2 linked regions of the Homo sapiens genome follow. The protein of the gene in region 1 interacts with the protein of each later gene in a pairwise test. Each region holds a gene or a part of one and is shown on either strand. Other genes may lie near its edges.

Region 1 (4,018 bases):
GAGGCGACTGGCAGCTTACCACAGGTAATAGAACTTATGGTGTCCCATCTTCCTTCTCTGTCAAGTGACATGCTGCTCTCCCATTCCCCACCTCCAATGTCTCACTAAGTGAGGTGTGCTGCCCCCTGGCGCACCATGAGAAGAAGAATGGGCAAGTTAAATTTGGGTTGGCAAGCTTGATGAAGAGCAAAGGAAAAGTGACAGATGTTTCATGGTTCTGATTTGAACCTGTTGTACTTCCAGGGACAGATGCTGACATCCAGAAGGTAGTTGGAGGGAAGGGTCCAGGTAGGAAGTATGTTCAGGATGGAGATCTGGGCTGGAAATGGAAACTTAGAGCTTTCAGCAGAGGTTGGTCATTGGAGATGTGGCACTGAGTTAGATTGCCCAGCGAGAGTGCAGACCTGGGGTTCTCACTCCTGGTGACATTAGCATCACTTGGAAAGCTTTAAGTAAAAATACCTATGCTCAGGCTCCAGCCCTAGACATGCTAATTCATTTGACCCTGGGATGAGGCCTGGGCATCGGGAGTTTTGGAAGCACCCAGGTGATTCTAACGTGGTGTAGAGGGTAAGAAGGAAGGGGGCTGAGTCAGGAGCCCAGAAATACTCCAACCATCAAAGCAGGAGAAGTCTGCAGAGAAGGCTGAAAAGGAGCAGCCAGAGAGGTAGGAGGAAAGCCAGGAGTAGGAGGCGCTGCAGAAGGCAAGGAGAGTGCCCTGCTCGGGGGGAGGGAAAGTGCCCTGTTTCTTTCTGCTGAGAGACTTAAGGTGCATTCTCAGAAGTTCATGGATAGATAGAAAAAGAATGAATAATTTAAAAAGAAGTGTCCATTAGATCGAGCCATGGTGAGGGTGCTGGTGACCTTGGTAGGAGAAACTCCACTCAGCGCCCGCAGAATGTAGGGCCCAGTACAGACAGGTTCTTGTTGAATGAATGAATGAGTGACTTGGTGGGAATGGAAGCCAGTTTGGAGTGGGTTGAGAAGCGAGCTGGAGGTGAGGACGTGGAGACAGCATGTATAGACAGCTCTTTCAAAGAGTTTGATGGTTGAAGAGGGAGGAGAGAGATAGAAGGGAGCTGGCGAGGGGTGGGGTCAGGGAGGGCTGTCGGGAGAGCCTGGAGTGGACACTGTGGGCATGCGTGTCCGTGCAGCACATCGCCATGCAGGAGCCTGGGGGAAGGCCTTTCCCTCAGTGAGGGCTGCAGGTCTGTGAGTTAAGATCGTACCAGTGAAGTGTGTAGTGGTTACTGTTTGTTCAGGGGGCAGTCAGGAAGGCCTGGGTAGAGGGAATAACTCTTTCTGTGAATCTCTGGGAGGGAGATTTTGATGGCAGGAAATGTGATTCCTGCTGGGGGTGGCAGGCAGAAAGGGAAGGGAGCCCTTGCTCTGCAGAGAGAAGGGTGTTCCAGAAAGCCGTATTTAGGGACAAGATTAAGTTGTCTAGGGCAGGTATCCAGGGTGATAGGATTGGGAGAAGGGAGCTGGAGTAAAAGCCCTGCGGCTAAATACATGAAGAAGGCAGAGAGAGGAAAAAGCAGGGCCAGTGAGTAGCCTGTGGACAGAGGCTGGGCCCCGTGGGGAGCAGACCCACGACAGGGCTGGCCAGGGCTGCAGGGGAAGCCTGGGACGGGAGAGCCCCACAGCCTGCTGCCAGCCCAGGCTGCCCTGATGCAGGGGTCTGAGGCAGAGTTCATGCCTTTGGGCCATGGAAGGTTCTAGAAGGTGTACAAGCTATAACAATTGTTCTTATGAAGTTTACATACAAGTAGGGAGATACCATTAAACCAATCCATACAGAAGATAATTTGAGATAGGGGCTAGTGCTATGAAGGAAATACAACAGGACAATGTGATGGAGAGACGTGGGGGTGACTCTAGACTGGCTGGGCAGGGAAAGCCCCTTGAAGGAGGAGACTGAACTGAGACCTGAATAACATGAAAGAACCAAGCCCGAGGAGGTCTAGGGAAAGAATGTTACAGAGGGAACTGCAAGTGCAAAGGCCCTGAGGCAGGGGCAAACTCTGTGGGTTGGAGCAGAGGGAATAGGGTAGGGATGGAGAGGTTCTGTGCCTCTGTTTCTGACCCACCCCTTCAGACTGCCCATTCGGCTATGCACAGCTTACACCACTCGCCTCAGGCTGGCAGCGGTTCCTGGGGATGAGACTATTTTTAGACACAACTCTCCTATCCGTGGGCCTAGAACATACCGTGTCTTTTTAAGATGATCAATATGGAATGACGCTATTTATAGAGACCCCACATCAATTCTCAGAGCCTGGGAGCCCCAGTGTGGGGACAGTCCCAGGACCAGGCTTTGTGGAGGTAGGCACCACCCCTGGCACAACACTGAGGCCATCTGACATCAATTCTTTAACACTTATCTTACCTTCTCCACCCCGCCTGCCGTCACTTGTCTTCCCTGAAGAGCCACAGCCATGGGCTGGGGAGCTTGGTACCCACAGCCTCCCCCTGCAACTTCATTTCCCCAAGGGGTACCTGGTATGCCCCAAGTCCAACATAAAATTTAGTTGTGATTTGCGAAGCCAGAGTCTGATAGAACAGTTTCTCAACCTCTCTTGTCCATTCCTCACTCTGTTTACTATTCTGGAGGGGCAGAAAAGGACAGTGAAAATTCTTAAGACCTCCTAGGTTCGCCTCAGAGGGCCAGGGAGAGATCCGCCCAGGACAGGAAGAATGTAAGGTTGAACTTAGGGGCTGAGCTTCCCTGGTGGGAGGTCATTGTGGCCCAGAGCAGCCAGGCGAGACTGCCTGGAACAGGTGGGACTGGTACCCCTCCACAGAGGATGCACAGAATTCAGAGAGGTGAATGCCCAGATCATGTGACTGGGCCTGTTGTCAGGAGAGAATGTCTATGCACTGAGGCTTCAGTTCTTTCTCTCCTCTTCAGTTTCTTCTTCTGTTTAAATCTCCTAGGGAGGCAATGGAAAGTCATGTCCCCACAGAGGTATTAGCAGAGTGGAGGGATGGAGCTGCTCTCGCAGCATCTCTGTGTGCCCAGGAGGGTCTCTTGTCCACTCAGAAACCCCTGTCATCATCACCAAGGGCTTTCCTTGGCCTCCTAACAGCCCTGGGTGGCCAAGGCTGGTGCTGGCTGCCCCATAGGCTCAAGGTCACACGGGGAAGTGGGCAGAGCTCAGACAGGACTTCACCCTTACCCTTGCCCAGGGAGCCCCCGTGGTTTCTGGGAATGGATTTTGAACAGGAGAGAGGCTTCTCCTGGCACCAGGAGAAAGGTAAATGCCGTTCTGGTAGGTATTGATTCCTCGAAGGCCTGTGCAAGGCAAGAGGCCGCTTTCAAAGAGTTGGCAGAGCAGAGAGAGGTAATCTGGCTTCAGGCACCAAATCAGTTCTCAGGGTACTCAAGCTACATTAGCCATCCCCCTACACTCAGGCTTGGCTGGGAGGTACCCCAAATGATCTAAGATGGGGGAAAAATCAGACCATGGGTGGGACCAGCCAAGCCCAATCAGTGCACCCTGCCTGGCCATCAAAGCCCCAGCCTCATCGACCTGGGCCAAGCGCAGGAAAGTGGCCCAGACAAGCCCCTCAGAGCCAAGGTGCCCGCCCTTGGCTGCGCAGCTCTGCTGCCTCTGGGCATGCTCCTAGGAAGAACCCCAGCCCCGCATTCATTCTGTACTGAGCCCAGGGCTCCACTCAAGGGACACCAGCTGGTGTGGGGTACAAGGAGGCTGAGGGCCAGAGACCACCCACCCCAGCCTCTGTTCCTCATGTTCTGCTCATAGACGTGGTCAGAAGAAGACACGGGAGCTCAGCCGGCCATTTGCAGCGACAGCCTCACCACTGTGCTGGGTCAGATGCAGCACAGACTGCCAGTTAAATAAAGCGACAGCTAGTTGCCAGCAAAACTGGAAACCCAAGGAAAGCCCCCACTTGCTTGCGGAGCCTAGGTGCCTATTAGATGTCTAATTGCTGAGCTTCTGTTTCAGGAAGTCCGAGGGAAGGAGAGATAACAACTCCCTAAGGATCCCTTGGG
Region 2 (3,500 bases), on another chromosome or scaffold:
AAAATAGTTTTTCAAGAATGTCTTTCTTTTTTTTTTTTTTTTTTTTTTTTTCTGAGACAGTGTCTCTCTCTCTCGCCCAGGCTGGAGTGCGATGGCACGATCTCGACTCATTGCAGCCTCCACCTCCCGGGTTCAAGCGATTCTCCTGTCTCAGCCTCCCGAGTAGCTGGGATTACAGGCGCACGTATTTTAGTAGGGACGGGATTTCACTGTGTTGCCCAGGCTGGTCTCGAACTCCTGAGCTCAGGCAGTCTACCCTCAGCCTCCGGAAGTGCTAGGATTACAGGCGTTAGCCACCGTGCCTGGCCTTTTTTTTTTTTCTTTTTTTTTTCAGAGACAGTGTCTCACTCCTTCATCCAGACTGGAGTACAGTGGTGCAATCTCAGCTCACTGCAACCTCTGCCTCTCAGGTTCAAGTAATTCTTGTGCCTCAGCCTCCTGAGTAGCTGTGATTACAGGCATGCACCACTGCACCTGGCGAATATTTGTATTTTAGTAGAGACAGGGGTTTCACTATGTTGGCCAGGCTAGTCTCGAACTCCTGACTTCAAGTGATCTGCCTGCCTCGGCCTCCCAAAGTGCTGGAATTACTACAGGTGTGAGCCCCCACGCCCAGCCAAGAATGTCTTAAAATACTCCCTTTAAGTGTGATTTTGTTGGGAGGGCAGCCCTGTTCCTGCATTTTGGAATTGCTGTACTTACATTTTTGCTTTCTCTAAAGCAGAGTGTGGTTCCCATGTTAAAAAACAAAAGGAAACAAAAAAAGGTAACATGCTTGGAAATGACTTTTGTGGTAGTTACTTTATATGTAAAAATCTAGAAGGTGCCTAATCTTAAACTGAGTAAGGCATTTACTTAGAATTAAAGATAATTTACCCAGCCTGGGCAACATGGCAAGACCTCGTTTCTACAAAAAATAAAAAAACTAGGCCAGGCGCAGTGGCTCACGCCTGTAATCCCGGCACTTTGGGAGGCTGAGGCGGGTGGATCACCTGAGGTCAGGAGTTAGAGACCAGCCTGGCCAATATGGTAAAACCCCATCTCTATTAAAAATACAAAATCAGCTGGGTGTGGTGGCCTGCATCTGTAATCCCAGCTACTTGGGAGGCTGAGGTAGGAGAATTGCTTGAACCTGGGAGGCAGAGGTTGTAGTGAGCCAAGATCGTGCCATTGCACTCCAGCCTGGGCAAAAAAGAGCGAAACTCCATCTCAAAAAAAATAAAAATAAAAAATTAGCTGAGTGTGATGGCATGCACCTGTGGCCCCAGCTACTCAGGAGGCAGAGACGCAAAGGTGGGAGAATTGCTAGAGCCCAGAAGGTGGAAGGTTGAGGCTGCAGTGAAAAGAAAATTTACTACAAAGTTTAAGATTTAAAGTCAGTGGTCTCCCTTTTTCCTGCATCCTCCAATTGAAGTTCAGTTTTTACTTTCTTAGTTGCAAAAATTAGAGACAGGAAACAATGAAACAAGCTTGTGATCTGAAGAATTTGACTTGTATCTAGTAGCTTCAGCATGTTCACGGGTCATAGGAGGTTATGGTCCCAGTGAAAGTTACATTCTTGGCCAGAAAAATCCCTTCAGGAGGTTCTTTTTCCCACATTGGATTGTTCACCCCAAACAGCTGTGAATTCTGGTTTGCAAAAGGAAGTCCAGGCTATTTCTGCCCTAGTCTTTCATAGGGAAAGTAAATTACTGGGTTTTTAGCCCAGAAACACTAAGGAAACCCCAGAAGTAGACAGTGGAGAGTTTGTTCTTAGAAAAATCAGGCTCTCCTGTGGGTAGGAACTTGGTCTCTTTTTTGGAGAGCTCTCAGAAAATATTTCCCACACTGATTTCCAAAGGATTATTGGGAGATTTTCTGTGGTAGAGAAAATTATATCGTATAATATGTTACATTCATAGAACATCTTCACATAACTTTGGTGTGGTTAGAGTTAATGGTAGTAATACTGGAAATTATATGGTATGTCTTCATATTTATCCTTTCTCAGTAATTTGTAGATCAAGTTTGTTTAGTTTACAAATCAAAAAAGAGTTTTTAAAACAAGTCAGTTGTCTCTGCTTTGAAACAAGATAGTTGTATCTGTTTGTGATATTATTACCACTGATCCAGGAAGCAGAACTGCCTCCTGGCCTACTTAAGTGGTGAGGACATACTATGGTGGCTAAGGATCAGGTTCTGACCCAACTCTGCCTTGTGACTTAGGCAAATTAAGTCACTTTTCTGCGCCTCTGTGTCTTCATATATATAATGGGCCTGGGATGGTGCCTATCTTCTAAAGCAGCATTAAATGAGCTAAAGGATGTAAGGCATATAATGCCTGGCACATGGCAAGGGTTTGGTAACCCTCAGCTGCTAGAATCATCTAATGGGAGCCAGGTGCTTGCCACCCTTGATGAATCAGAGTGAGGACCCTGTTAAGGACATATCTTTTATTGATGTTGCCATTTTAACATTTATAATAATTCACAGCAGAAGCTCCCAACCTTTTAAACTATGAAGAGTCCCATAGTTTTAAAAAGCCTGAAAATTGGCAATGGTGGCAAAGTTACAAAGCAATCCAGGTCCACAATCCTTTGTTTGAAACCTTGGGGCCAGATATGTTTTCAGGGTGCTGACTCAATATTGTATATTGAGTCCCTAGTGGGACTGTGGCAGCACCCTGGAAACATTGTATTTCTACAGCAAAACCTGTAAATATTGACTAAATGGGATAAATATGAAGCCGCTTCATATCAGCGTAGGTCAGGTTTTGCAGCTAAATGACTGCTGCTAACTTATGAAAATATATTTTCAGAGCTTTTTGGATTTCTGAATTGTTGATAAGGGACTGTAAACCTCTGCCTTTATGGTAGAAAAATTGCAAGACAAAGAAATGCACTAAGAAGAAAATAAAATCAGTTATAATTTTACCACCTACAGAAATTAACTTGAAATTTTGGTGTACAATCTTGTTTTTTTCTGTGCAAACTTTTTTTTTTAACAGAAATGACATTATTTTGTATATACTTTGTCTCATGTTTTCACGAACTATATTGTGAAAACACTTTCCTATATTTTCTGTCCTCCTCAACCTCATTTTAAATGGATGTGATATCCGTGGTATATATGAATTGTAATTAATTTAACCCCTTTCCTGACATGGAACATGAGTTTGTTTTTCGTTTTTTGCTATTAGAACAGCTCTGTGATGAACATGCATGTGGATAAGTTTGTGTGTACATTCTGCTTATAACATTTGATATATTCAATAGAATGGTAGGTGTAGTTTCAACATTCAGCCATTGCAGAAATCAACAGCTGAATATTCAAATTGCACCTCAAAATCAACAAGAAACATACATGTTGTTGAATTTGAGGACTCATAGTAATTCTGAGGCCCCTTACATCTCCTGGGTCCTTCTGACTGGGAAGTAATATACTGATTTATGGTTGCTAAATACTACTTATATTCAGAAAGTAACCTTTGTGCAAGCCCAGGACTTTTTAATGGTTAACTT

What was found.
Region 2: the proteins of SCN5A (region 1) and ANKS1A interact in a two-hybrid assay, tested with the Homo sapiens proteins (one large-scale study listed by BioGRID).

What each region holds. Positions count from the first base shown.
Region 1 is NC_000003.12:38,642,881-38,646,898, reverse strand, and holds part of SCN5A (sodium channel protein type 5 subunit alpha), read left to right. Parts: intron 1-4,018. UniProt on the Homo sapiens protein: Pore-forming subunit of Nav1.5, a voltage-gated sodium (Nav) channel that directly mediates the depolarizing phase of action potentials in excitable membranes.
Region 2 is NC_000006.12:34,895,755-34,899,254, forward strand, and holds part of ANKS1A (ankyrin repeat and SAM domain-containing protein 1A), read left to right. Parts: intron 1-3,500. UniProt on the Homo sapiens protein: Regulator of different signaling pathways. Regulates EPHA8 receptor tyrosine kinase signaling to control cell migration and neurite retraction.